4 linked regions of the Homo sapiens genome follow. The protein of the gene in region 2 interacts with the protein of the main gene of each other region in a pairwise test. Each region holds a gene or a part of one and is shown on either strand. Other genes may lie near its edges. The genes, in order: FUNDC2, TMEM154, SMIM1 and SGTA.

Evidence for each region.
Region 1: the proteins of TMEM154 (region 2) and FUNDC2 interact in binary tests that used the Homo sapiens proteins (3 or more experiments, as listed by UniProt).
Region 3: the proteins of TMEM154 (region 2) and SMIM1 interact in binary tests that used the Homo sapiens proteins (3 or more experiments, as listed by UniProt).
Region 4: the proteins of TMEM154 (region 2) and SGTA interact in binary tests that used the Homo sapiens proteins (3 or more experiments, as listed by UniProt).

What each region holds. Positions count from the first base shown.
Region 1 is NC_000023.11:155,050,450-155,057,843, reverse strand, and holds part of FUNDC2 (FUN14 domain-containing protein 2), read right to left. Parts: intron 6,175-7,394; coding exon 6,043-6,174; intron 3,250-6,042; coding exon 3,172-3,249; 3' UTR 1-3,171. UniProt on the Homo sapiens protein: Binds directly and specifically 1,2-Diacyl-sn-glycero-3-phospho-(1'-myo-inositol-3',4',5'-bisphosphate) (PIP3) leading to the recruitment of PIP3 to mitochondria and may play a role in the regulation of the platelet activation via AKT/GSK3B/cGMP signaling pathways.
Region 2 is NC_000004.12:152,648,675-152,656,068, forward strand, and holds part of TMEM154 (transmembrane protein 154 precursor), read right to left. Parts: intron 4,254-7,394; coding exon 3,993-4,253; intron 3,903-3,992; coding exon 3,864-3,902; intron 1-3,863.
Region 3 is NC_000001.11:3,768,713-3,776,142, reverse strand, and holds SMIM1 (small integral membrane protein 1), read right to left. Parts: upstream 3,395-7,430; 5' UTR 3,355-3,394; exon of another isoform or gene 3,081-3,354; 5' UTR 2,962-3,080; intron 845-2,961; 5' UTR 770-844; coding exon 660-769; intron 349-659; coding exon 222-348; 3' UTR 187-221; downstream 1-186. Other genes in the region: CCDC27 (coiled-coil domain-containing protein 27), read right to left, coding at 4,620-4,742, 6,256-6,360. UniProt on the Homo sapiens protein: Regulator of red blood cell formation.
Region 4 is NC_000019.10:2,773,266-2,780,659, reverse strand, and holds part of SGTA (small glutamine-rich tetratricopeptide repeat-containing protein alpha), read left to right. Parts: intron 1-7,394. UniProt on the Homo sapiens protein: Co-chaperone that binds misfolded and hydrophobic patches-containing client proteins in the cytosol. Mediates their targeting to the endoplasmic reticulum but also regulates their sorting to the proteasome when targeting fails.

The sequences.
Region 1 (7,394 bases), on a different chromosome or scaffold from region 2:
CTCTCCGACTCTGGGGAGAACCTTGGGAAGAAGAGACTCAAAAGTTCTACCTCTCCTGTAGCATGCTCCAAGTCCCCATCCCACCAGGTCCCATTGCGGGAGAGACGCTGGGTCAAAGGGTGGCTCAAAGTGGTGAGGACGCAGGGCCGACCCATAGTAGCCAGGAAGGGGACAGAAGGGGTCCCTGAGCCGGGACACTGTCCAGCACGCTGCAGGACAAGGGAAGGGAAGCCTTCACTACGTAGATGCCATCCTATTGGTTGACAAGTTGGAAGCCTTGAGTGCGGTGTTACCACGTCGCCGCCACAAGGGGGCGATGAAACCCCGAACACATTCCAAGTCAAGTTTCTGCGGACCATATACAGCGACAACGCTCTTCCCAAGGAAAAACTTCCGCCCCACCACCACTAATTAGGAAGTCCAGAGCGTCATTGGACTCTGCTACTGGAGAAAATACGTGCCTAGCTAAGCAGGCCTCTCCAGTCAAATGAAAGTAGTGCACTGAAAGGTGGAGCTGCCTGGTCCTTGAATCATCTCGGTTTTGCATGGAGGAGTGGCAGCTGTTCTTTTGGGGGAAACCTTAACTCCCACTTCACCACCTGAAACAAAACTGCTGGCACAATAGGGCCTTGATTCACAGGTAACCCCAAATGCCTGAGCCTCCTTCACCGATGGTTCAGCTAAACTGAAAACAAGGTGTGCAGCTGTGCGTGTTCAACCTCCATGCCAGCTCTGCACAATCCCAAGTGGTCACAGTGGCCTCACACCGTGGGCAGAACTCACAGCCGTTCTCATACTAGCAGGATGAGGCCAACCTGCAATACTGACCTCAACCATGACCCTCACAGTCGTAGAGGCAGCCAGCTGGGAAAAAACTTCAGGAGGGACCTACCTACAGATCTTAATTCAGACAATCAGAATACAGTCTGAGGCCAGACTATTTATTACAACCTACTCAAGGTAGTTTACAACCACCTGCTAATCTTTGCTGCCCTCACCAATAATCACAGGAAAAACAGATGCACCAAAAGACAACCCCTACCCCACTGGAGAGGCATTGGGTGGCCAGTCTCCCCACATGCAACCCAAAGGGGCACAGAGCACTTTGGTTAGCTTTGCTGTTACCATCCCATTGCTGTGGGTAAGTCACACAGGTAAAGTGGCTGCAGCCACTATCACCATATATGGCATAACCCAGAGACCCAGATGTCAGGAGAGGCAGAGTGTGGGGAAGCAGGAAACAGATGACTCAGTGTCACTACATATGTCTATATCAATATATATAGAGATATAAATATATAGCAAGCAAAAAAAAAAAAATAGAGGAGGATCTATAAGGTTAAGAGACTTATCCAAATCATGCAAATACGATGTGAACCTTGCATGAATTTTGATTCAAACAAACTAAATATAAAACACTTGAGGAAATTTTGAACACTGATCAGATTTTGGATATTATGTAATTACTGTTAATGTCTGATATGATGAGGTATTTATGATTTTTAGAAATAATTCTTACCTTTTAGAGATACATACTGAAATATGATAAAATGACATTTTGATATTTGTTTCACAATAACTGGTAAAAACCAGCAGAGCTATAATTTGATGATTGTTGTGAGTGAGTGATAGATACACAGGGGGATTATTGTACTATATTCTCTACTTTTATATATTCCTGAAAGCGTCCATAATAAAAAGTGAAAAAAAATAAGTTCTTATAGCAAAATATGCAGCAAAGAGGCTCATACCATTATGGTTTTGAGATGATTCATACATATTGCAAGCAAAATGGCTTATGTTTCCTTAAATGTAAGGAGAAAAACGCAAATAGGTGGTTTCTGTAAAGTTCCACACATCCACTGGTAGTTTTGATTTTCAAATTCAATACATCATTCTCAAGACGGGTTAAAATGCAAACATTTTTAAATGTATGGCCTTAGAAACACACTCATATTTCACAAGAGATCATCTCCAAGATTAACAATTCTGAGTAAAACTAACCTTTAATAGTGAGTTTTCTTTCTATAAAGTCATTATTCAAATACTCAGCACCTATTAAGTGCTAGGCCCTGTGAGTATAATGGTGAAGACAGAAGTCTTGCCCTCTGAAAGCTGACTGATATTCTAGTAGGGACTGTAGACATGGTAACATGCCACTACAGCAAAATGTGGTAAGATTCTGTGTGTGCGTGTGTGCCCGTGTGTGTGTGTGTGTGTAAGCTTTTAAAGAATAATTCTCAGGGTTGTGGTCATCATGAGACGGTAGATTACACTTGATGGAAATTTATTTCTCATGTCCTATCACTATCTTTCTTAATTCTGAATCCCTGGAAAGCTACTTCTTTAAAATTCCGGTTTAAATGTTGTATTTCATACTAACTAGATTAAAAAAAAAAATAGTAGAAGTGGCACAGAGGAGTTATGGCCACCCCTAATGTTTTGATAAGGATATTTCATTCACATTTCAAAGCTTAAAACCTTTTCTACAAAATAAAAATCCAAAATCTTCCCTTTCCCACCTAAATCACTTGTTTTACAATAAATAAACCCTTTGGAAACAGCCATGAGATACATTATCCTGTACGGTAGAAAGCATTCCTGGACAATATCAGATTTTTCAATTACAGTAATTATGCTGCCAATTTTGTCGGCATAATTATAACACATTTAAATAGCTTTCTGTAATGTAAAACCAACTAAAAAAGAAAGTAGACACCAAGATACCAAAATCTTTCATGCTTAAAGGCAAATGTATTCAGTTCCTTTCCATGCAGCACACAATAAGGTTATCTATGTGCTTATTTCTTTTCCAAATCAACAGTTTGGGACAACCTTTCAGGATCCACTCATCCTCCACGGTCAGCCATCTTGTAATGTGTTCTCATAAGTGTCTTGCATGGGGGTAAAGGAACCTTCTTGTTGGCCTACAGACTGGCCAAGTAGGGGGTGTACTGGGAGGAGAGCTAAGGACTATTGTCTCTTCTGCCACCATGAAGCTCATGGTGCCACATTGACTTGTACCAGCAGATGCTTAGAGAAGCCACTCAGATTTGCCATGGCAGGGAAGAAGGCATGGGAGAAGAGGAGGAGGGACTCGATGTCCTATGATGGAGTGTAGAGGCTGCTGGCTGGAAAAAACCAGGAACAATGAACATGAGGTCATCTTCCTTAGGATGCCATGCCAAGCAGAAAGCCTCCGAAAAATCCCCCAGTTACTAGAACATTCTTCTTCACAAATGACACCACCTGAAAACAGAAGATAGTACAATGGGTTGTTTTGCTAAGGATGTTAATAATATTAAGAATCATCTCTATTATACCTATGCCAGTCTTAACAATGTCAATCCCCTCATCGGTTACGTAATTTGCACTTTACCCAAAGGGCAATGGACTTACACTAATAGTCTATTTAATAATAATTAAATAGACTTACATATGAAAATGACTACTGGCTGGTGTGGGGAGAATAAGACTAGAGGGAGCCTGATGGGAAGGAGGATGCACATCAGGAGGTAGAGACAATGGCTCTTTGAATCAAGGACAAAGAAGGAGAGTTCATGGGGACAGTTATGGCGAAAGAGTAAAGCTGCACTAAATAAACTGGTTACAGAGGCAATTCTGTTTCCAATTTTGCTCCTTCCATCCTCTTTGGCATCTACCCTCCAATAGAGGCTTCTCATTTCCTGAAGTCTCTCCCCTAAATCTCTCCATCCATGCATTCCCCCCTGAAACCTGCTCCCAGGTAGATGCTATAAATTCTCATTCTCACACTTCACCACATCTAAGATGATTAACAGGTGACGTTCTTATTTCCTTAAGTTCCCAAAGCTTCCCACCTCCCCTCTACCCTCCTGGAATAGCTCCCGGTCATCTGAGACTCAGTGCATACATTCAGACACTCTTTATGGCTCCTTAGTCTGTGCTCTACCAATCTCCTGACCACTCCCCACCCTTCCAATTTCAGAGACAATTTTGATAAGTGGCTCAGACTTCCTCTTTCTCCTAAGTGTGATCACCACCTTAGAAAGTGTTCATATGAACAAGACATCCAACATCCTGGCCTGATCATTTCTTGAACTCAAGTACGGTGACTTCCATCCCCAAACCACCTAAGCTACTCACACCCTGACATTCCCCTAACATTTTTCACACTACCAACCCCATCCTCCTAGGACCACTGTCTTCTAACCCTCCAGTAAGCCCTTACTCCAACGATGCCTATGTCTTCCTGCCTCATTTCCACTCCTCCTCCATCTCTCCTGGACCTCTACATTTCCTTAAATGAAGCACTTTTGTCATCTGCCATTGGGGTGAAGAAAAAAAATCATACAACTTCCTGAGAAAATTGGTTTCGTTTATTATTTTTACTACTCTTTCTTCAACTTGCTAATTTGGCTTTCAACTCCACCACCCCACCAAACTGTTCTCACTGAAGTCATCTTGTTGGTAAATACTGAACTAAATCTTCATCCTGTTTCTCAAATCAGACCACCGGCTCTATGAGTAGGAAAACCAGCCACTACATCCCCAGGGCCTGTGACAGTGAACTCAATTCCAAATTATCTGGTTACTTTATAACAAACTCCCTCTGTGAGTCAACAGTTGGTTCTAATCAAATATTAACTTTATGCTTTTTATTATATACACTTCCAGTATTATTTTTAAAGTTTTCAGCAAGGTGCCATGGCTCACACCTGTAATGCCAGCACTTTGGGAGGCCGAGGTGGGAATACTGCTTGAGCCCAGAAGTTTGAGACCAGCCAGGACAACACAGGGAGACCCTGTCTCTCCAAAAAATTTAAAACTTCACCGGGTGTGGTGGTACACACCTATAGACCCAGCTACTCAGAAGGCTGAGGTCAGAGGATCGCTTGGTTGAGGCAACAGTGAGCCATGACTGTGCCACTGCACTCCAGCCTGGGCAACAGAGTGAGACCTCTCTTACAAAATTTTTTTTTACTCACTGTGGTGAGTCACTGTGCCCAGCCATGCATTATTTTTATAAACATTTGAATAATAAAGTTTTCATGAAATAAAAAATGTAACTTTCCTAACTTTGAGGAGAGACAGAAGGAAGAAAGGAAAGAGAAACTATCTGGGCTCTGGGCTCCTGTAGATACCCATCTCTGCCACCTTCCCACTCTGGGTAAAGGCACCAGCTTTGACCAGCCACTTGCCAATCACCAGCACGAAGAGCCACTCACAACATGAGAAGCCTGAGGCGCACACAGGGTATTTCTCCTCCCCTGCACTCAATCTGTCTGTTTTCCCTGTGAGGCTAGAGTGAGCTAATGGGAGAATCTCTCATCACTCCAGGCTACAGAAAGTACCAGCTATCTTCTTGACACCCTGATCCTTGTTTATTTCTCCCCAGTTCAGTGTACTTATTTATTTGCAACATCTGACATATTTCTAAAGGTAATAAAGCAGCAGCAAAAAATATCCTTTTAAAAAGGAAGGACTTCTCCTGTCCCTGCAGTGCCAGGTCATAATCTAACTTGGCTTTAATGAACAAGATCAGGGGTTAGCAAACTACAGCCCATGGGCCAAATCCAATCTGAACCTGTTTTTAAATAAAGTTTTATTGCAACACAGCCACATCCACTTATTTAACATATCATCTATGGCTATTTTGATGATATACAGTGGAGTTGAATACTTGTGACATTTCCACTAGTTATATGCAGAACAAGCAGAGTATGAATGTTTCAGAGATATGCGTGTATAGCGACAAAATGGGACTCAAAATAATTATACTGGCCATATATCCTTCCCACCTACTATGCTGCCCCACATTCCTACAAGAACTGGTTAAAGGGATAATCACTCCACAAATGTGCACAGACAAAGGTCACCAAACAATTATCCAGCTTTTAAAAATGTTCTGAAGTGATGATAATCCAAGTTAGTTTTGTCTCATTACTCTAAGTTCTTTGTAATGCTTAAGCCCTGTCCATCACTGAGATATGGTACAATAGGGTTAAGCCCTGTTTTTGTCTGCACTGTTCACACACTACACGTGAACAATGCAAGTCTCACCTCCTCAGCTTTGCTCCTGACCTCAGTAGGTATCTGATTGCTCTTACGGATCTTCAGCTGCTCTTTGGCTTTCTTCATGTCCTTCTCCACTCGTTGCCAGTCAACTTTGATGTACCCAGTATGGTTTGCAAGCTACAGTATCAACAATAATGACAACAAGAAATGAGAAACAGATTTGTTATTTCTTTTAGTCAGGATAAATCCTGAAGTAGACTCTCGAAACCCTCTGACTTTCCATTTTTGGAGACATCTGCCATTTGATTCTTTGTATCATGATGACATCTACTCAGCATCCCCCCTATATGCGAAGCCATATGCCTGGCACTAGAAATAACTACTGGCAATTCTTTTAAATTATTTATACTCTTACAACCCTTTTACAAAGAGTTACATAAGATGAAAATCAAGGTGGGGGGTCAAGATGTAGGGTGAAGAGATGGACCTTACAGCCAATACAAATGTTTCCAGAGAATGACTCTGACAATGTGCCCATGAGTGTCAGTTTCCTGACAATGTGAACAGAGCAAAGCATTCAGGCAGTTATTACTGTTGCTTAACAGGAAGAAATCTAGCATCTGGCCCCACAGAGATTTCTCATGAGCAAGTTCATATAAACGGATATTAAGAGAACCACATCCAAAGACACCTACAGCATATACCTATTTCCCTTGATAAAAACAGCAGGCACAAACACTAAAACTCAGTGTAAATCTGATTCAAGCATGTAGATTTTGATGATGGATTAATATCATCCTAGGAATGAAGAGAATGACTGTAGCCAATCAATCAATGCCCTATCAATATCACTTCTCTCTACCAAATTTTTGGCAATCTCAAAATATCTGAAACTAAAAGTCTTCACCTTGCTAGAGTCTCCTCCTGCATTGTTGCTCTTCCTCTAGGCCCTATTTTAGCTAATGGCACCACCAGTCACCCAAACAGACTAGAGAAAATACTTGTGATGTGTATCATAAACAAAACATTGATACTCAAAAAAGTGAACTTCTTATAGAGATCAGTAAGAAAGTTCACTTTAAAAATGGGTAAGGGCAATTCAGAGGAAAGTGTCCACAAAAAGGAAAAAGTTCAACTTCACAAGTAATCAAGCCATAGTACCTTTATTTATGAGTCTATAACTGGAAATACACAAAAGTCTATCAACACATGAATGGATAAACAAATTGTATCATATTTACACAATAGAATATTACTTAGTACTAAAAAGAACAAATTACTTACAGCAACCACATAGTTGAGTATCAACATTTGTATCTAAAAGAAGGCTCTGGTTCATTTACTCCACCCTGTTTATCCCACAAAATCCTGCTATTAAACTGAGAGAATACATGGAC
Region 2 (7,394 bases):
ACCATGTCTGAGGTTGAGGCTGGCTCTCGCTTGTAAATGGCTTTTGAACCTTGAGACTTTCACAATGAAATTCAATGAAAAATCAATTTCTGGATTTGGAGCCTAAGAGCCTCACCATGTGAGTGGATACCTCCAACATCCCCCCACCCCTTGAGTCCATTAGGTAAAACCAGTCATGGTTTGGGGAAGGAAATTATGACTTTTCCTGAATTTTAAAAAATTTAAAAAGCTCTGTTTGCTTTTTTTTCTTAAGCTTAGAAAGAAGCCTCCATATGACCATGTTATTAGGAAGTCCTGAAATTTCAAGCAGTGGAGAAACATGTATTTCCCACTTCTTTGGAATCTATTATATGGGCCTCTGCCATGAAAGGAAATACTCTTCGGGGCTTCTTCCCCAGCTCACATTTGCCTCATCTGCTGACTGTGAAAGATTCCTCTGGCACAGAGACAGTGAGGTGGGCATGTGGGACAAGGGCATGGCCCCAAAGCCAGAGGTGCCCTGTCATGGGTGTGAGGGACATAAAGTGAGTTTTGTATACATGTATGACTATGTATTGTATTAGAGACGTTCCTATCCTTTGAGTAACTTTTTGGAAAGACTATAAAGGCTTTAACTTAAAAATCGAATCCGAGCGAGTTTTACTGGCACAAGCCAAAAGTACCCAAGTCTGCTTTAGACCTAGAACTACCCTGACTCCTAGCACGTGATGCTCCTTGAATCACAACTGAATACTCTCAAAGTGGGTCTCTGACTGAGGGAATTTTCTATAATTGGTTTTCGGATTGATGTTAGTAATCTTTAGACAGTTGAAGAATTTGATTATAAAAGTTAGCATAGCTTCAATGGGAATAAGAACAATGCTTCCTCCAGGACTTTTCAAGATCAAATTGGGATGTGGGGTGGGGGAGAAAATAAAATCTGTAACAGAAATATAGATGAAAGAATGCTCTTCTGGTGGTGATGACCCCAAGGCCTCTAGCCTTCCCATCCCTAACCCTAATCTGACTCACTCCTTGATCAGCCTTTCTCTTTCCCCAGTGATGGGAAATGTTATACTGGCTTATTGGCTAAAATTATACAGGATCCTCATCTGGATTAGGGTCAAAGATGGCAGCAGTAGAAAAGCATCCCCCAGAAATATGCAGGTTCAGGTCCAGACCACTGCAATAAAGTGAGTATTGCAATAAAGCAAGTCACATTAATTTTTTAGTTTCCAAATGCATAAAAAGTTATGTTTTTCCTACAATGTAACCTATTAAGTGTGCAACATTGTGTCTACAGAGACAATGTATATACCTTAATTTAAAATACTTCATTGCTAGAAAATGCTAACGATCATCTGAGCCTTCCGCAAGTTGTAATTATTTTTCTGGCGGAGGGTCTTGCCTTGATGTTGATGGTTGCTGACTGATCAGGGTGGTGGTTGCTGATGGTTGGGAAGGCTGTGGCAATGTCTTAAAGTAAGATCACAATGAAATGTGTCACATTGATTGACTCTCTTTCACAAAGATTTCTCTGTAGCATACAATGCTTTGTTTGATAGCATTTTATCTGCAATAGAATTCTTTCACAATTGGAGACGATTCTCACAAAACCTGCCGCTGCTCTACCAACTATGTTTATGGAATATTCTAAATCCTCTGTTGTCATTTCAACAATGTTCATGGCATCTTCACTAGGAGTAGATTCCATCTCAAAAAAAAAAACAAAACTCTTTGTTCATTCAGAAGAAGCAATTTCTCAGCCACTTAACGTTTTATCATGAGATTGCAGCAATTCCATGGCATCTTCAGGCTTCACTTCTTATCCTAGTTCTCTTGTTCTTTCTACCACATCTGCAGTGACCCCTCCACTCAAGTCTTGAACCCCTCAAAGTCATTCATGGGTCTTGGAATCAACGTCTTCCAAAATACTGTTGATGTTGATATTTTGATCTCCTCCTATGAATCGGAAATGTTCTTAATGGCATCTAGAATGGTGAATTCTTCCCAGAAGATTCCTTCCCAGATTTATCAGAGGACTCACCATCTATGGCAGCTATGGCCTTACAAAATGTATGTCTTAAACAATAAGACTTGAAATTCAAAATGACTCCTTAATCCATGGGCTGCAGAATGGATATTGTATCAGCAGGCATGAAAACGTTAGTCTCCTTGTACATCTCCACCAGGCCTCTTGGGTGACCAGGTGCATTGTCAATGAGCAGTAATATTTTTAGTGGAATCTTGTATTTTGAGCAGTAGACCTTAACAGTGGACTTAAATTATTCAGTAAACCATGCTATAAACAAATGTGCTAACATCCAGGCTTGGTTGTTCCACTTACAGAGCACAGGCAGAGTAGATTTAGCATAATTCTTAAGAGCTGTCAGATTTTCAGAATGGTAAACAAGAATTGACTTTAAGTCACCAACTACATTAGCTTCTAACAGGAGAGTCAGCATATCTTTTGAAGCTTTGAAGCCAGGCAGTGATTTCTCCTCTCTAGCTATTAATAGTCCTAGATGGCATTTTTTTTTTTTTTTTAAGTAGGGACAGGGTTTCACCATGTTAGCCAGGCTGGTCTCAAACTCCTGACCTCAAATGATCTGCCTCAGCTTCCCATAGTGCTGAGATTACAGGCGTGAGCCACCATGCCCAGTCAGATGGCATCTTCTTCCAACAGAGGACTGTTTCATCTACATGGAAAATCTATGGTTGAGTGTAGCCACCTTCATCAACGATTTGAACTAGGTCTTCTAGATAACTTGCTGCAGCTCCTACATCAGTCCTTGCTGCTTCATCTTGCACTGTTATGTTATAGAAATGGCTTTTTCCCTTAAACCTCATGAAACACCCTCTGCTAGCTTCCAATTTTTCTTCTGCAGCTTCCTCACCTCTCTCAGCCTTTGTAGAATTAAGGAGAATTAAGGCCTTGCTCTGGATTAGGCTTAGGCTTAAGAGAATGCTGTGACTGGTTTGATCTTCTACCCAGACCACTGAAACTTTCTCTATATCAACAATAATACTGCTTTGCTTTCCTATCATTGTATGTTCACTGAGTAGCACTTTTAGTTTCCTTCAAGAACTTTTTCTTTGCATTTACAACTTGGCTAAATGTTTGGCACAAGAGGCCTGGTTTTCAGCCTATCTCAGCTTTCAACTTGCCTTCCTCACAAGGCTTAATCATTTCTAGCTTTTCACTTAAAATGAGAGATATGTGACTCTTCTTCCATTTGAACACTTACATGCCATTGTAGGGTTATGAATTGGCCTAATTTCAATATTGTTCTGTATCAGGGAATAGAGAGGCCTGAAGACAGGGAGAGAGACAGGGAATGGCTTGTTGGTGAAGCAGTCAGAACACACACAATGTTTATCAATTAAGTTCACTGTCTTCTGTGAGCATGGTTTCAGGCACTCCAAAACAATTACAACAGTAATATCAAAGATAACTGATCACAGATCACCATAACAGGCATAGTAGTATTGAAAACATTTGAAATATTGTGAGAATTATCAAAATGTAATGCAGAGACACAAAGTAAACATGTGCTGTTGAAAAAATGATACCAATAGACTGGTTTGAGGCAATGGTTGCCATAAAACTTCAATTTGTTAAAAAAAAAAAAAAAAGCAATACCTGTAAAGTGCAATAAAGCAAAGTGCAACCAAACAAGGCGTGCCTGTATTTTGAAATTCAATTAAACTTTTTTTTTTTTTAAAGAAAGGAATATGCATATATTCACTTCTGGAAAATTTCATTGAAATGTATTATTTATCACTTACTATTATATGTAGTCCTTGTTGCTTAATTTTAAAACATCTCTGCTCCTTCTCCAATCCCACCCCCACCTGTAGGCAGGTTTTAGGATAATACTCACATGTCTGTAAAGCACTCTGAGATCCTTGGCTAGAAGGTTCTGTATCAAAGCAAAGAATATTTTGTTTTATTGATTGTTCACTAACACATGAAGCAATTTTCTGGAAATGGAAATACACCAAATATTTACCTTGTTTAGTTCTTTTTCTTTTATAGTATGTTGCAAGGAATACCACGGATAAAAGTAAGAGGACCAATAAAATCAATGGGATTAACACCATCAGTATAAACTCTAACTGATTTTCATCCGGAGCAAAGTTGGTAGAATTTATATTTGCATTTAATGTTTCTTTGATGGTCACTGCAGCAAATGTGCTTGGAATAGTCACTTTATTTGGTCTTTCAGATTCCACAGTTGTATCTCCTGAGTTTTCTAATTCCTCATAATTACCTGTGGGAATAGATACAAAATTGAAATTTCCATGGAGACAAAGTTAGTATGTTATATTGTCAATGATTTTTAAATTATTCCTAGATACATTCTGTGATAAATTTGACCCACTATACTTGGCCTCCAAGCTAAGTGTGACACAGAACATTGATTTAACATAAATGAAGCTCAAGCTGGGAGTGTATTGAATATGGAATCAGAGCTCAGAGAAAAACCTTGCACAAAGGTAGGCAGTTTTGCATTGACCAGACATTTTAGATACGCTTAAGCAAAGTGGATTCGGAAGCTTCCTCATGTTAAGGGTGATTTTCCAAGCCAAGTAATGTGATATTACAGGACATCTCCTATAGGGTATGATAATATTTTAACAAAATGTCTGAATAAATTTAAATTCACATTTACTAAAATTAAGTACATGCCATACAGCACTTTTAGATGTAAAGAAATGCACTCTGTGTCCTAATTTTTTTTTTTTTTTTTGAGGCAGAGTCTTGCTCCATTGCCCAGGCTGGAGCGTAGTGGCATGATCTCAGCTCACTGCAACCTCCACCTCCTGGGTTCAAGCAATTCTCGTGCCTCAGCCTCCAGAGTAGCTGGGATTACAGGCATGTGCCACCATACCCAGCTAATTTTTGTATTTTTAGTAGAGACAGGGTTTCACCATGTTGGCCAGGCTGGTCTCGAACTCCATGCCTCAAGTGATCCACCCGCCTCAGCCTACCAAAGTGCTAGAATTGCAGGTGTGAGCCACTGCGCCTGTCTGTGTCCTAATATTTAAATAAAAGGTTACCTATCAATGGAAAATAATTCTTTGAAAATGAATTGACTGTGCCGGGCATGGTGGTTCACGCCTGTAATCCCAGCACTATGGGAGGCTGAGGTGGGCAGATCACCTGAGGTCAGGAGTTCGAGACCAGCCTGACCAACATGGTGAAACCCTGTCTTTACTAAAAATACAAAAATTAGCTGGGCGTGGTGGTGCATGCCTATAATCCCAGCTACTTGGGAGGCTGAGGCAAGAGAATTGCTTGAACCCAGGAAGCAGAGGTTGCAGTCAGCCAAGATCGCGCCATTGCACTTCAGCCTAGGCAACAAGAGCGACACTCCATCTCAAAAAAAAAAGAAAAAGAAAAAAGAAAAGGAAAATAAAAACCATCAGGATGAGAAAGGACTACTGACTTGATGACTATCTGAAAAACTTTTCCTTACCTGTCTAAGCAGTAGTCATGGTAAGATAAGCTGAAGGTCTTTGTCCTAATATCGTATAATGTTGTCTACCTTTCAGAAGGGGCCAACTGAGGAAAATACCTCGTAAGTTGATGCTACAGAAAACTTATCAAATGAGATAATTTACAAGAAAGTTATTCTAAGGTGAAAGGAACTATGCAAATACAGAAGTCAGCTGCTTTAAACCACACTCTGCGGTATAGGTTAGGCAATTACTTTACAGAATGATCAAACTGGACATTGCAGAGCCAATTCAATAGTTCATCTATCTTCATAATCCCATGACAATGGAGTCCTCTGATTTTGGTTGAAACAATAAAAATGTTTGGTCACTGCTATGAATTGAATGTTTGCATTCCCCTCAAATTCATATATTGAAGCCCTAATCCTCAATGTGATGGATTAGGGCTAAGAGGTGAGGCCTTTGAGAGGTCATTAGGTTTAGATGAGGTCATGAGAGTGGGGACCCTATGACAGGATTATTGCTCCTATGAGAAGATAAGAAAACCAGAGTTCTCTTTCCTTGCCATATGTGGATACGGAAAGGTGGTGACTGCAGGCCAGGGAGAGAGTTCTCACCAAATACTAAATCTTCTAGCACCTTTGATCTTGAACTTCCCAGCCTCCAGAACTGTGAGAAATAAATGTCTGTTGTTTTAAGTCTTGCAGTCTGTGGTATTTTGTTATGGTATCTGAGCTAAGACAGTAAGAATCTAATTGTGTTGATTGTATGAATAAATACTTTCAGTCTCCCACATCAGGGAATTCATTTGATAATCCCTTTAGTAAATGCAACCCCAAACCATCAGAATCAATTACAAACTACAGAGTAAACTCACTGGTGTTTCTCATGTGTATATGCCAAAGGCAGGATTGAAAAAAAAAACTACCAATGTTTGAAGAGTGGAGGGGCTTCAAAATGGCTGACTAGATGCATCTGGCAGTCACCTCTTCACAAAAAATAACAAAAATACTGAGTAGATAAGCTACATTTTGAATTGATCATTTAAGGGAGAACACAGGAATTCAACAGAGTAGTAATAGACAACACTTAAAGCACGGAAGGAGAGGGAAATAAGGCATCCTTCTTGGCTGAGACTGGCTGGGAGCCAGGAGAAGCTCCCCAATGTGGGGAAAGGGTAGTGGTCCATATTTCCACTGCAGACTCCTGCAGCCTAGCCACGGGAGAGCCCCTCAACTCTCACAGGCCCTGAGACTAACACTGAGAGCGCCTGTACACTGTGCAATGGCATTGCTCCAGAGAGGGACCTTATGCGGAGTCCCACACACCCCTGAGCCCTAGTGGCTGCAGCACAGTGCCACTTTGAGGGCCCAGCCCCCACCAGACTGTATCCTGCCCTAGGGCCCAACAGCCCCTGAATCTCCATGTCTCTGGAGCTCCTGCCTGCAGCCACCAGCGCTGCTGGCTGCTGCTGCCAGGGCCAAGGTAGGAGCCGCTGGCAGCACCCCTCCCCCCACCCCTGGCCAGCAGCGGGGCGCTCACACATGTTTATGTGCCTCAAGGACAAACTCCACTGTCCTCAGCTATTGCTGCTATAAACTGCTGCTGCTAGGGCCAAAGCATGAGCAAAGCATAGCCCCAGCTGGCTGCCTATGGTTGCTCCCACTGAAAGCAATCCCATCCTCTGCAGTAGCAGGCAGCAGTGTAGTCACTGCTGCCTTCACCTGAGCTTTCTATCAGCAGCCTGGGGATTGCTTCACCCCTACCTATTACAGCCAGCTACTGCATGCCCCACCAGAGAGTCAAAGAACAGGTCTGCACAGGCCAGCTCTCTCCCAGTGCAGTACTTGAGTGTGCCATTTGGGGCCTGGTGATTGCCCAGCCCAGTCTAGTCCATCACCACTGGCACCACAGCATTCCTCCCAGATGCCTGAGGTTGGGACTACCCACTC
Region 3 (7,430 bases), on a different chromosome or scaffold from region 2:
TTGAAGGGCTGTGTGCCAGGTGTTTGTGCGCCCCCGTGTGGGGCCGATGACAGCTGTGCACCTGGTGTCTTCGTGTGCCTGGCTGCCAGCGCGTGTGCCCTGTGCGCTGTGTGTGCCGCAGGGTCCGTGTCTGTGGGGGGGTCCATGTGTACAAGGGGTGTGTCTCCAGGCCTGTGCTCTCACGTGTGCGGCCAGCCCCCCGCGTGCATGCGGGGCAGCATTTATTTGCACTTGTGCACATAGTAGCCTGTGAGGTAGCCCAGGATGAAGATGATCCAGAAGAGGGCCACGCCGCCCAGCACCTTCATGGCGATGCCCAGCTTGCCCGTGCACAGCCTCTGGGAGATCCTGGGGTGAGAACCAACTGGAGGTGAGCCCCAGGCCAGGGCCGCATGAGGGGCCCCCTAAGTGGACTGTGGCCGTTGGTCTGGGTCAGGGGGAGGGGCCTGGGCGCTCTGCTGGAGTCAAGAGGAAGCTCTCCCCGCCCACAGCCAACCAGAGGGAAGGCCAAAGGCTGCGGTTTGCTGAGCTGCTGGACCGTGGGCTCCCAGCCAGGATGGGGTGGAGGGTGATGGGGCCGGTAGCAGGGGTTAGGGCAGGCGTCTCTGGAGGGAGACACCAGCCTGCTATGGCTGGCAGGCTGCCCTCAGGCCCCTCACCTGCGGCAGCGTGAGGCCTCTTCTGTGCTGGACACAGCCCCTAGGCTGACTCCGTCCCTGCTGCCGTCCTCCCACCTACTATAGTGGACGTGGCTCTCCTGGGGCTGCATGCTGTGGGGCTGCAGCGGGAGGGGCGGGGCCTTCTCGGTGGGGAGATCAAGACAGGTGGCCAGGCTGTGGCTTCACTGTAAAACAAGCGGATGGAGGGCGGCAGTCAAGACCCCCTCTGAGGCTGCTGTTAGGAGAGGGGCACTAAGGGTCGGGGGCTGACTCCCTCACCGGGTCTGTCGCCTGACTTAACAGGTGACCTAGACACAAAGTGGTAGAGTCATTTGCCCAGGGTCAGGCCGGGAGGATGGGACCAAGCGAGAATTCCATCTCAGGCCAAGCCCTGACCTCAGGCATGTGGGAGGCCAGTGTTTCCTTCCAGCACACTCCAGGAGCCTCCCTTCCCCGGTGCTTTTATCAGGGAGCCTGCACAGCCTGCCACCCTCAAGAGACGAGGACATTGTGGCCCAATCTAGGCTGCAGCCCCTGATAACTGTCCCCCTCCTTAACCCTGCCCGATAAGGCGCCTTCTGGCCTCTGGGGAGGCTGGCCAGGGGAGGGGGGGGTGGGGCAGGGCAGCAGGTCCGGGGCAGCGGCTGGTACAGCTAGACCGGTCCCTGTCTGGGGAGGATGCGTGGCTGGCCCCAGGCAGTGGCAGCAGCTGTGTCCTCAGCCTGTGTGGGTTGCAGCCCCTCCCCCACCCACACCTCTAGGAGGGCTGGGGCTTGGGGGGCATGATGCACTGAGCACGGGGCCGGGGTGGATTCAAGGCCTTGGGGAGGCCCTACAGAGACAGGAGGGTCGTAGGGCTGGGTGGCTGCCCAGAGCAGGAGGGGCCCGGCCCCAAGGCCAGCTCCCTGCTGGGCTCCAACTCCTGCAGACCTGGGACTCATCTTTGCATCTCGGCACTCAGCTCGGTGCCTGGCAGCCCAAGTGCCCAGAGGGGCGAGGAGACCACGGGGACTGAGCAGGAACTCCAAGCACTAGCACAGCTGCCCGGCCGGCCTGAGCCAGCCCGGACTCTAAGCACCTCCTTTACCCTCTGGCCTCTGTTTCGACCTCCTATTTACCTAAGGGGGTGTGGGGGTGGAGGAGTTGGAGGGGGCACGAGAAGTTGACAACCCACCCAGGCTGTGGGACTGGGGTCAGCTCTCTGGTCTGCTGGGCCCCCAGTGTCCCCTCTCAGCATCTGGCCCCCAGGAGTGGGGTCCTCGGGCAGGCAATGGCAGGCCCCTCACTTCTAGGAGCTGAGGCTTTGCTGGGCCCCCTCCAGCGGGGAAGGCTGACCTTCCTCCCAGGTCATCGGCACAGAGGCCTAAAGGCACAGCAGCCACTCCCCTGCAAGAAGCCAGCTCAGAAACTCAGGCCCCAGGCAGTTCTGAGACTCCCGGCACTTCCATGTCTGCCTTCCCCCAAAGCCCAGAGAGGCAGAAGGAGCTGTCTCAAAGCCATAAAGTGTGCCTTCGGTGGGAGCCCTGGCTCAGTGCAGCCTGGCACTCAGGCCCGGAGAGGCCCAGCCTCTACTGGAGTATGGGTGCTGTTTTCCCGGAGCATGTGGAGCGGTCAGCTGCCTACCCGAGGTTCACGCCCTCTTGCCTGGTGTGCAGAATCCCATTCTGGTCCCAGCAGCAATGTGCCAGCCCCAGGTAACAGCCATGACCCGGGTAAGACAAGCTTAATACCACCACCCCTGCTTTCCCAAGTCACCCAGCTGGGGTCCAGGAGCCAGGGTGCAGCAGGGGATGGGAGAGTTTGCTTCTGTGAAAGCAGCAGCAGCCACCTCCTTCTTCCAGACTCGACGTGATGGCTGGAGCTGCTGGAGCTGCAGCAGCCGCCTTGCAACCCGACATCCACGCAGCATTAGTCTCGGGAGTGCTGAGGCTCCAAGTCCACAGCAGCAGCCCACCATGGGCCTCCCGGTGGGAGGGGTCAAGCCCAGTGTGTTCAACTCTGGGATCATGGGTTCCTGTCTTGCTGACGTAGAACACGTTGTTCCCAAGTCACCCCGGTGCACAGCCACCAGAGCCGGCCCTTGAGGCTGGCCTCCCTCACTTGCTCAGTAAACGTCTCTCCACACTCATGTGATGGTCACAGGTGTGGCGGCAGGAACCCATCAGGGACTCCCCTCCAGGCCCTGGGAGGCTCCCGGATCCTGGCACCTCCTGGGGGCTTGTGAGTGCAGGAAGGCCCTAGGTACACAGGCGCCCCTCCATAGACCTCTTCACCCCACAGCGCCTCAGGGCCCCACACTTACCCGGAGAACCTTGCCTGAGGGCTGGGGCCTCTGGGCCAGGTTGCGGTCAGGGCCTGGCCAGCGGCCCGCACCTCCCAGCGGGGCAGGTCGTGGGCTGAGGTGCGGCAGACGCCTCGAGCCTAAAAAAATAAAGGTGACCGGAGAAGCCGATCTTGCTAAGGGCCGGGAAGGGAAAGTGGCTGGTGTCGGGGGTCCCCAGCAGCCACAAGGAGCCGGGCAAGGAGCCGGGCGGGCAGTTCCGGCCCTGGCCCCGCACCGCGGGTTAGGCCGGTGGGGGTCAGTCCAGGGCACGCCCCCACCCCCGCCAGTTCTCAGCCAGCGAGGCCGCGCACAGTCGCACCTGCCCACTGCGGCCGCACCGGGAAGCCGCAGCCCGGACCCCGCGCGCCTCACCTGTGTCCCCGCGTCTCTGGGCTCCGCAGGGGCCGGGCCTGGGCAGGGGGCGAGGGCGGGGGCGGGGCCACGCGGGGAAGGGCTGGAGCCAGCAGCGGGGAGGTGTCTGGTCCGGAAGGTGGCGGGGCTAGAGTGGTGGGCGGGGCCATGCGGGGAAGGTCTGGGGCCAGTAGCGGGGAGGCGCCTGGTCCAGAAGGGGCCGGGGGCGGGGCGAGAGGGGGCGGGGCGAGAGGGGGGCGGGGCCATGCGGGGAAGGGCTAGGGCCGCAGCGGGGAGGCGCCTGGTCCAGAAGGGGCTGGGGGCGGGGCGAGTGGGGCCGGGAGACGCCTCGTCCGGAAGGGGCCGGGGCTCTAGGCCGCCCAGCCCCGGGGCCAGGAGGTGCAGGGGGGCCGGGCAGGGTCTGCAGAGGGCTGCACTTTCTGCCCCCAGACGGCTCGCCCTTGGGGCCTCCAGGGTCCCCGACCTCCTTCACCCCTGCTGGAGCCCCTCCGACGCCACGAGCCTCCCAGCCCCGCGGGGACCCGGCTGCAGCGCCGACGAGACTGCGGGAGGCTCTGGGCGCGTCTGGGCCTGAATGCTGGGTTCGGGGACCCGGCCGCGGGGACCGTCCTCCTCCGGGGCTTGAGGGGCGTGGCGCCCGCACGTGGCCCACGCTCGGTGCTCGCGGCGGGAAGGGAAGCAGGTGTGGGTGGGGAGCAGAGAAGGGTAATGGGGAGAGTCCCTTCCGAAGGTGTTCAGGCGCCCAGAGCCTCAGAGGCGCCGGGGAAGCGTCGGGGACCACAGACACCGTTCCCGTGCGTAAAGCTTTCCTTCCAGGAGCGGGGGGATGGGAACAGAGCCCCCCACCCTCACCATCTTCCAGAGGGGTCCTCCAGCAAGAGAGTGCCCCAGCCAGGAGAGCCCCCAGGGCAGAAGGTCACAGACCCCTTCTGCTCAGGCGTGAGGTCTGTGCTGAGTGCTGGGCGGACACCCCGGCTCAGGCCTCTGGCAGCCTGGTGCCGCAAGGGGACCTGTTAGGAGCTAGGGGCACAGGCTGGTGTGCTGACTCCCTGTGAGTGAGCTTTGGAATGGGGAGTGTCCTTGTAGCTCAAGGTCGCAGAGGAGAGTAGGCCCCCGCGTGGATCCCAGAGAAGAAAAAGGTGGGACAGTGCCAACACCGGGGTTTAATTCTGAGTCTGAGAGCAGGACGCATGGTGGGGGCGGGTGGTTCTGGAGCTGGGCCCCGGCCTCTGCTGGGCTGACCGTATTTGGGGGCCTGGCTGGGCCTACTTGGAGGTCCCCTTCTTGGATTTGCTGGTCAGGAAGGCCTCTGACTGTTGCAGGGGGGGCACTTTGACGCCTTTCTGCTTCAGCTGATTATAGTAGTCGCTTCTCTCTGAGATAATTCTCTACACAAGAAACACAGCCGTCGAGGTGGCCTTCCCAGTTCCTCACCTTGGCCTTGAGGCCGGTCTGCACAGTCCGTGCCAGCTGCCCGGGACGCCACCCTCTCCTCCTCCTCCAGAGAGGCTTGCTGCAGCAGGGGTGTGCTGGTGAATACTTACAACCGGCTCTCCAGGGGGAGAAAAAACAAACAACCCTCGGCTTTGTGGCGTTGCCAGTTTCTGTGGTGGGAATATTCCCACAGTGGCTGATTTTCAGCCACGGAAGTGAAGTCACAGAATGCGGAGCCGGGGGCAGGTGCACACCACCAGCCCGCAGAAGCCTGCACTAAGCCCCCTCTTCAGCCCTCTTAGAGTTGTGAGGAGCCCCAGACTCCTAGAGATCTTTGAGGTCGTCACATCTGTCCCTCAAGTCCCTTCTGTCCTGTACAGAGGGAATGTTGTCCCCACCTCTCTTCCATTCTCCTCTCTGGGCCGTTGCTGGTTCATGTCAGGCTATGGCAAGCAAGCAAAGGTGCTCTTCCCTGGCTACTGTGCGGTGGGAATAACTCCCTCCATCCTCTGTCTTCCCTCTTCTCTTCCTCTTTCTCTCCCCTTCCTCCTCCCCTCCCCCAGACAACAGTACCAAGGCCGCAGAGACCTCTCTCCACATTACAGCTCTGCAGGAGAGGCACTGTCCAGGGCCCCCCACTCTGCAGAGGAAGGGAACCAGGCCCCAGGAACGTGGGTGCTGGAAGGTCAGGGGCACACACTGGGGTTCAAGGGCAGCCCCAGAGGGTGAAGTGTGGGTCTTGGGAACAAAAGCAGCTCCTGGTGAGAGGTGACCCCTTCGTAGTACACAGCCCCACACAGAGCCATAGCCGGTGCCCGGCTCCCAGAGCTCTGAGTCTTACGACACCTTGCAGGTGAGCATGCGCTGTCCATCACAGAGGGAGGCATCTATGGCTCAGAAAAGTGAGTGTGTGGCCCCCAGCTGGTGGGTGGTGACCCCCTCATGCCCAGTGACCCCAAGGCCTGAATTCTCCTACACCCCTCTACTTCTCCGAGGCCCTTGCTTGGGGACCCCTGGTCAGGAAGGAGCCCAGGAGGCTGTGGCCGGGGTGGGAGGGGTCTGCACCAGGGCCCTGGATCAGTGGGTGGTGATACCAGCGGAGGGGACCAAGCTGGACAAAGCCGGGGCTGGGCTCCTGCTGTGGGAGAATCTTCGTGCCCTGAGCGGCTTGTCCCCTCTCCACAGCGCTCAGGATGGGTTGTGGCAGTTACTGCTGGTCTCTGATGCCCGTCCCCCGTTTTGCTGAGAGTAGCTAAGACTCCCGTGCCATGCCCCCACCTGCCTTAGGATGATTTGATCCCCTCTGCCTGAGCTGAGAGAAAGGAGGGTCCTGGGGTCCAAGTGAATAGGTGACACAGGTAGGATGAGAACAGAGTCCCTGGAATCTAGGCCCCCCACAACCCCCTACCACAGCTCTGGCCTGGGGGTCTGGGGCCCGGATAGAGGCAGCTGAGCTTAGGGGTATACCTGCAGGGCTTCCAGGATGTCATTGTCAGAGATCTCGTTGGCCAAGGACTTGGTCCCGGAGATGCTAAAGGTGGCCTGGATGATCTTATTCCTTAACCTCTCGAGCTGTGAGCAAAGGGACAACACTATCATTCGCCTTTACCCAAGAAGGCACCTGGCCAGTGGGCTGCACCCCCCACCACCTTATTTTTTATGTACCAGGAAGGAACAGCTCACCCTCACTTTTCATGGCTTTAGAAACTGGAAACAGGTGTCAGAGAAGTCAATGTGGATTGTCTGAGAGCTAGGAGGTGCCGGATCCAACCCCTGACCCTGTGCGGCCCAGCCCCAAAGCCCAAAGACTCTCCTACACCAGGTGGGCTTTTCTAATTGGAAAGTAAAACCTACACACACATATATATATATTTTTAAACCAACAAACCAAAATAGTACAGAAGCCGCACGTAACCCCTGGACCATCCTCCACTGCCCAGGGGAGCTGCAGTGAGCGGACTTCCTGGCCCTTGGGGACACTCTCACTTTAGGCATTTAACAGTGCGCTGCTGGTGCTTCCTCCTTTCCATGCTGACTAGGAGGTGTCTGTGCCATGGACAGCAGCGTTGAACCTGGCCCCCGCGCACAGACCCAGAAGGCGTTCTCGTCTTCTGCTGCCATGAAGATCCTTGTCTGCCTGTACACCCGCAGCCGCCTCCCCAGAGGTAGCTAATCGTGCCTCCCAGGAAGCTGCAGAGGAAACCCCTCCAATCTGCACCCCAGGAGCCTCAGACAGGAACCCCTTGAGTTATGCGGCACGCTCAGCACGAGTTCCTCGTCCAGAAACCCTGACGACGCAGAGGTGCCCCACAGGAGCTGGGCCCGAGAGGCTCAGCCTTGCCTCCGAGTGGAAGCATGTCCACACTGCCGCTCGGACAGGTTTAAGTGACAGCAGGAATGTCATGGGCCCCTGGCCTGTGTGAGGAGTGGAATCCTTTCCTTCTTTCCAGTATTTATTGAGCGCCCAACTTTGTACAAACACCGTGCCAGGTGCTGGAGGTCGTGAGGTCACAAGGGGCTGGGCCTCTGTACTGGGGGTCCCTCCCCAGGGTAGAGGTTGGCAGCTACCCGGGGTGTCCAGCCTCACTTCCCCACACCCGTGGGGCCTCACCATCAGGCTTGGCGCTAGTTCCTGCTCACCC
Region 4 (7,394 bases), on a different chromosome or scaffold from region 2:
AAGGGAAGATGGGTCTGTCAAGAGATAGAAAGCCTTGTAAGAGATGCTGGGCCAGAGATAGGAGTTTGCAGGAATACTAGATTCTCTCCTGGCGGAGTTGGGCAGGGGAGGTGAGCACTTGAGTTTGAGTGGCATGTACAGGGTTTGGTGTAGGCCCCACAGATGACCCCCAGCTGGTGAGAGGCCTCCTATGCACACTCCTGGGGTTGCAAGGAGCAGTTGAGAGCTTTTATGTGTGCAGCGATCTCCTGGTGGCATTTTAGAAGGAAGTAGGCTTCGATGTGGGGAGTGGGCAGGAGACTGAGCTAGAACTCGGGTATCCTAAGAGGGAGTGAGGAGCAGGGCACCCGGCTCTCCTGCCCTGCTGTTGGTGAGAAGCACCGTGGATTTGGGATGGAGTTGGGCAGAGTGTTCACAGAAGGTAGTGGGTAAGAGCGGGCCCTTCCTACTGGGGTGTGAGGAGGTAAGACGACCTCAGTTTACGAGGATGTTCTATTTTTTTCCATTGAATGATCCCTTCTGGGCAGGGAAATAAGGAAGAGAGGTGGTTGTGAGTTTTTTGTTTGTTTTTAGAGACAGGGTCTCACTTTGTCACCCAGGCTGGAGTGCAGGGCCCAATCACAGCTCACTGCAGCCTCCAACTCCTGGGCTTAAACAATCCTCTCGCCTCAGCCTCCCAAGTAGCTGGGACTACTAGTGTGTGCCGCCACATCAGGCTAATTCTATTTTTTTTTTTTAGAGTCTCTTTTGTAGGGTCTCACTATACACTGTATTGCCCAAGCTGGTCTTAAACACCTGGACTCAAGCGATTCTCCCACCTCGGCCTCCCAAAGTGCTGGGATTACAGGTGTGAGCCACCGCCCCGACCGAGGTGGCTGTGTTTTGATTTTGTTTTTATTTTAATGATAAAATGAAAAGGTGGGATGTGGAGTCATCGGCTCAGAGCCGAAAGGGACGCTGAAGCCCCCAACATTGGAGCTGGCGCCACCCCCATGGGCCAGCACCCTCCCACCCTCACTTCTGCGGCCTCTGCCTTGAAACCAGGCCTCGGCCATGGCTCCTGAGCATCCATAAAGCCCTCGCTGTTGGGAGACACAGCAGGCCTTCTTTGAGATGCTGTCCCACAGCCAAACCCTACAAGTTGTGATTGTTCCAAAGACACCGAGTGCCAAACGGCAGTTGAGGAAAATGCCGTCCTCATGCTTGCTGGACCCCCCTCTGAAGAGCAGAAAACTTTCTTACGGGAAAGCCTGGCTGTTGAAGCAGATTTGAGAACCGTTTGATGATGTCCCCCACCTTGGGGACAGCAGAGAAGCCACAGGTCCTGGCACCACTGGCCTGTGTCACATGCTGGGCAGGGCCTGTGCTTCCCTTAGTTGAGCAGTCCTCCACCGTGGACCCGCAGTTCTGAAACCCAGAATAGCCTACAAGCAGAAGGTTTTCAGAAAGCTCACAGCAAAGTCATTTTGGACAGAAAAAGCTGACCTGTACTGACTTCCAGCCTTTCTTCCCACTTAGTGGCCATCAGTGATTTACAGCTGGGGGCGGTTTGGCAGTGTCTGGGGACATGTGTGGTTGTCTCAACTGGAGAGTGTTTCTGGTGTGCAGTGGGGGGAGCCAGGGGTGCTGCTCAGCCCCCTGCCGTGCGCAGGACAGAATCATCCACCCAAGATGCCCACAGTGCCACAGGCGACAGACCTGCATTAATTATTTGGGAAAAAAATTGAGCTTGCTCCTGCTCACACTGGACAGCAGAATAAACTTCTGATTGGGCAGAGGGTGGAAATCAGGGGGTCCCCAGCTCCTAGGATTCACCTCCTTGCTCCCTCTCCCCTTAGTGTGTGGATTTATTTTATCTTTTGTTTTGTTTTGTTTTGTTAGAGACAGGGCCTCACTTTGTTGCCCAAGTTGGCCTCAAACTCCTGGGCTCAAGCAATCCTCCATAGTTTGTGAATTTCAATGTGTGCAGCCTCCTGGGACCTTAGTAGAGCAAATGATCATGGGACACAGAGTCTCTTGGGGATCCGTGGCATCCCCTAGCCCAGGGTGTCTAAGCTGGGGCACTTCTGCTCAGCTCTGTCCCAGGGTAACAGGGATGGGGTAGGGTGGAGACCCTGAGGCTAAGAGGTTCTCTGGGATGTGGCGGCGGGGGCCGGGGGGGGCGGTGTTCCAGGAGGGAAAGCAGCACGTGCAAAAGCCCTGGGGTACAGAGGCACCGGCGGCACTGGAAGAGAGGAGTGTGACTCAGTGAATGCAACTCTTTCCACTTTCTGAACCCTCATTGGGTCCCTAGCCACCTGCCACCCTGTCCAGTTCTCACACCTCAGTTTAAGAGAGAAGGAAACAGGTACACCAAAGAACCAAAGATGAGATTTCTTGGTTTATTCTGTGTTAGTTCCCTGCGAAGGAACGCACATCCCCCTCCACACACACACCCCTGCCCCCCACACCCCTCAGCGTGGATCGTGCTAGGCCCTGTGTGCCTGGAATGCTAAGCCGAGTTCCAGCTGTCACTGGTAGGATCTTGCGTGTGCCACCTGTCTGGGCCTGTCACTCCCTCTGTAAGAGGGGGCTGTGACCCCCGCCTTCTAGGTTTATGCGGGGACTCAGCCAGGTCTGATTTCTTTTTTTTTTTTTTTTTTTGAGATGACGTCTTGCTTTGTCACCCAGACTGGCGTGCAGTGGTGCGATCTCAGCTCAGTGCAGTCTCCACCTCCCAGGTTCAAGCAACTCTCCTGCCTCAGCCTCCCGAGTAGCTGGGATTACAGGCACCCGCCACCACACCCGGCTAATTTTTGTATTTTTAGTAGAAGCCAGGCTGGTCAGGAACTCCAGACCACTTCAGCCTCCCAAAGTGCTGGGATTATAGGCCTGAGCCACCGCTCCTGGCCCAGGTCTTGTTTCTGCTGCTTGCTGTTGCCTCTTCCAAATCTGAGGTCACCAAGTGAGGTGTGTCTGCCTGGGGATCCTGACCTGATGCCGCCTGTTACAGAATCATTTCCAATGAAACCTCTGAAGAGATGTCGGCACCATTCTCAGCTAAAGACACCTGGTTGGGTGTGACCCTCATCTCAAAGACCCCAGACTTTGAAGAGAAACTCTTTTCTTGAGGCAGGGTCTCACTCTCTTTCCCAGGCTGGAGTGCATTGGTGTGATCACAGCTCACTGCAGCACGGACCTCCTGGGCTCAAGCGATCCTCCTGCCTCAGCCCCTCAAGCAGCTAGGGCTATAGATGTGTGCCACCACACCCAGCTAATTTTTTAATGTTTTGCAGAGATGGGGTCTCCCTATGTTGCCCAGGCTGCTCTTGAATTCCTATGCTCAAGTGATCCCCCCGCTTTGGCCTCCCGAAGTGCTGCTGGGATCACAGGTGTGAGCCACTGCGCCTGGTCTTTTTTTTTTTTTCTGAGATGGAGTTTTGCTCTTATTGCCCAGGCTGGAGTACAGTAGTGCGATCTTGGCTCACGGCAACCTCCACCTCCCGAGTTCAAGTGATTCTCCTGCCTCAGCCTCCCAAGTAGCTGGGATTACAGGCGCGCACCACTACGACCGGCTATTTTTTGTACACTGGGTTTCACCTGTTGGTCAGGCTGGTCTCGAACTCCTGATGTCAGGTGATCCGCCTGCCTCGGCTTCCCAAAGTGTTGGGATTACAGGCATGAGCCACTGTGCCCGACCAGTCTTTCTTTTTTTTTTGAGACGGAGTTTTGCTCTGCCACCCAGGCTGGAGTGCAGTGGCTCTATCGCAGCTCACTGCAGCCTCCACCTCCCGGGTTCAAGCGATTCTCCCGCCTCAGCCTCCTGAGTAGCTGGGACTACAGGTGTGCGCCACCATGATTGGCTAATTTTGTTTGCATTTTTAGTAGAGATGGGGTTTCACCATGTTGGTCTCAAACTCCTGACCTCAGGTGATCCACCTGCCTCTGCCTCCAAAAGTTCTGGGATTACAGGCGTGAGCCACCATGCCAGGCCAAAAATTACCATCTTAATCAGTTATAAATGCACAGTTCAGTGGCTTTAAGCACATTCACACAGCTATGTAGCCATCGCCACCATCATCTCCAGAAGTTTCTCATCTCCCCAGGCTGAAATTCTGTCCCCATGAAACATTCACTCCCCAGCCCCTGGCACCCCCAATTCCACTTTTGGTCTCTGTGAATCCAACGACTCTAGGGACCGCCTAGGAGGGGAGTCACACAGGTTTTGTACCTTTGTTTCTGGCTTATTTCACTGAGTGCGACGTCCTCAAGGTCCGCCCATGTTGTAGCCTGGTCAGGATTTCCTTTTCATGGCTGCGTAGCGTTCCGTCGTGTGGCTAGGCCACATTGTGTTGATCCACTCACCTGTCCGTGGACACTTGGGCTGTTTGCTTTTGGCTATTGTAATGCTGTTGTCAAAACGTGCTTAAAAATAAAACAAAAGAAACTCCGTAAACCAAAAATCTTCACCTTTCGGGTGGCATGTGTCTGTTTTCCTTGGGCTTGGGGGTCAGGAGACCTGACTGGTTTGCTCTCTGAACCCTGTTGGCCGGGGCGGATGACGTCAGCTTTTGTGGTTTCACTTTCTGGTGGTGGTTGACTGCCGTGGGCCCTGATGTGTCGTACATGAGATCTTTGGATTCTGGGACTGGCTGCCCGCCGGCTCTAGGCAGTCCTGATCCCAGACCTCAAAGTTCTGGGCTGTCCATTGTGTCCTGAGATGGGGGCGGAAAACTCATTACCATCCCGCAGGAGCTTTCAGGAAGACCGTAACTCCCTGTCCAGCGACACAAAACACAGCTCTTGTAGATTTCTCCCCCTTTAAAACATTGAGCTGTGATTCCCACACCGCTGTGATCCCCACACCGTGAAATTCAGTGGCATTTGGTGCCTTCACAGGGTTGTGCAACCATCACCACTCTCTGGTTCCAGAGCTGTCTCATCGCCCCAAAAGGGAGCAAGGAAGCTGGTCCCCACCAGCTGTCACTCCCCTTCCCCTCCCCAAGCCCCGGCACCCACGCGTCTCCTTCCTGTCTCTGGATGGGCCTGTCCTGGACATTTCATAGAAATGGAGTCGGTGTCACACCCTGTGTGTGCTTTGGGTCTGGCTCTTTTGCTCTCTGTTTTGTTTTGTTTTTTAATGATTGCTGATGGATGTTGCTTTCCCTGAAAGGGAAACAAAGCTGTGGGCACACCCAGTGTGTCTGGGACTATGCTTGTTTAGTGGCGTGGAGGTCCACGTCGCCGGTGTCATCTGAGTCTGACGTCAGCCACTGTTTAAAGCGTGGCGGGCCAATGCCTTGCTTGTCTCTGGCGCGGGGTGGGTTATGCGGTCAGGCAGCCCACGCCTCATTTTCTAGGGGGTGGTGGCTGTTCACCTCATGTAGAGGCATTTTAGGGGAACCAAGACACTGAACGCCTCTGATCTTGAGTGTGGGGGCAGGTCAGGCGCCTGCCGGGCGCGGATCCTGCCGTGCCTGTGGCTCCAGTGGCCTTGAGTGAACACCTCCATCCCCAGTCCTGCCGCATAGGTCACTGCGCCGAGGTCATGAGACGGTGTTGTGTCAAGGGCCTGGTGCACCCACAGGCTCTTCAGGTCCTCCTCTTCTAGTCCAGCTTTCTCCCAGTGGGAGCTGTGGATGTTGAGGCCGGATCATCCTCTGGGATGGAGCCGTCCTGGGCACTCCAGGGCACTGAGCAGCGTCCCTGGCCTCCCCCCACTCCATGTGAGACAACACCAAGTGTCTCAGCACATCCATCGAGAACCGCTGGTCTGGGAGAGAGACAGAATCTGGAGAGACATGCACGCACACACACACATGCGCGCGCACACAGCTTCAGCAAAATCCAGTGGGTCAGTAGAATCCACGGCTTTCCTCAGCATTTGCCTCCTGGAGGAGGCCGGGTATGGTGGCTCACACCTGTGATCCCAGCGCTTTGGGAGGCCAGGGTGGGAGGATTGCTTGAGGCCAGGAGTTTGCCAATGTTCATGGGCAGGTATTTTACATAGTTGACGTTCTAGGTCTGCGAAGTGCTCAGGTAGGTCATCTGCATGGTTTTAATGCTTTTGGTGCCCTGCCTCTGATGCTGTCTACACGGGGATGGTTGTAGGTGAAGGCCTCTGTGTACGCGTGCACGGGTGTTAACCTACGTGTCTCGGGCCATTAGACATCTGTGCACTTAAAGTTAAAATGGACATTTGCATAGACGTGATAGGAAGTGTCGTTTTCTTATAAAAGAAGCTGCCCCTCGGGCAGCTGGCTCCTGGGACCGCAGCACAGTGAGCAACGCGCAGCTGCTCCCTCCCTCCGTGTCCCTCGGCCACCGCCCTTCACTGCTCCCTTCCGTGTGATGACAGCCCGTTTGTTCTCCTGTCTATGTGATCCTGGGCATGCGACCACGCGTCCCTGCCCAACCTGGCTCAGTTCAGCTGGAGACAGGGCCGACCCGCTTGTTGGAGTCGTCACGAGGACTGAGGTGCGTCCTGAGATGCCTGCTTGCCAGGTGTTAGTGTCGGTTTGCTGGGGCCGCGGTGACAGAGTGCCATAGACCAGGCAGCTGAAACAGAGTTCATCGTCTCTCAGTCCTGGAGGCCGGAAGTCCATGATCAAGGTTCTGTCGGGGCTCGTTCCTTGTGAGGACGTGAGGGCAATCTGGTGTCCCTGCCGTGTGGCCGCGTCACCCATCTCTGCCCTCGGTGTCCCTGCCCTGTGGCCGCGTCACCCATCTCTGCCCTCGGAGTCCCTGCCGTGTGGCCGCGTCACCCATCTCTGCCCTCGGAGTCCCTGCCGTGTGGCCGTGTCACCCACCTCTGCCCTCGGTGTCCCTGCCGTGTGGCCGCGTCACCCACCTCTGCCCTCGGTGTCCCTGCCGTGTGGCCGCGTCACCCACCTCTGCCCTCGGTGTCCCCGCCGTGTGGCCGCGTCACCCACCTCTGCCCTCGGTGTCCCCGCCGTGTGGCCGCGTCACCCATCTCTGCCCTCGGTGTCCCTGCCGTGTGGCCGCGTCACCCATCTCTGCCCTCGGTGTCCCTGCCCTGTGGCCGCGTCACCCATCTCTGCCCTCGGAGTCCCTGCCGTGTGGCCGTGTCACCCACCTCTGCCCTCGGTGTCCCTGCCGTGTGGCCGCGTCACCCACCTCTGCCCTCGGTGTCCCTGCCCTGTGGCCGCGTCACCCACCTCTGCCCTCGGTGTCCCTGCCGTGTGGCCGCGTCACCCATCTCTGCCCTCGGTGTCCCTGCCGTGTGGCCGCGTCACCCACCTCTGCCCTCGGAGTCCCTGCCGTGTGGCCGCGTCACCCACCTCTGCCCTCGGTGTCCCTGCCGTGTGGCCGCGTCACCCACCTCTGCCCTCGGTGTCCCCGCCGTGTGGCCGCGTCACCCATCTCTGCCCTCGGTGTCCCTGCCCTGTGGCCGC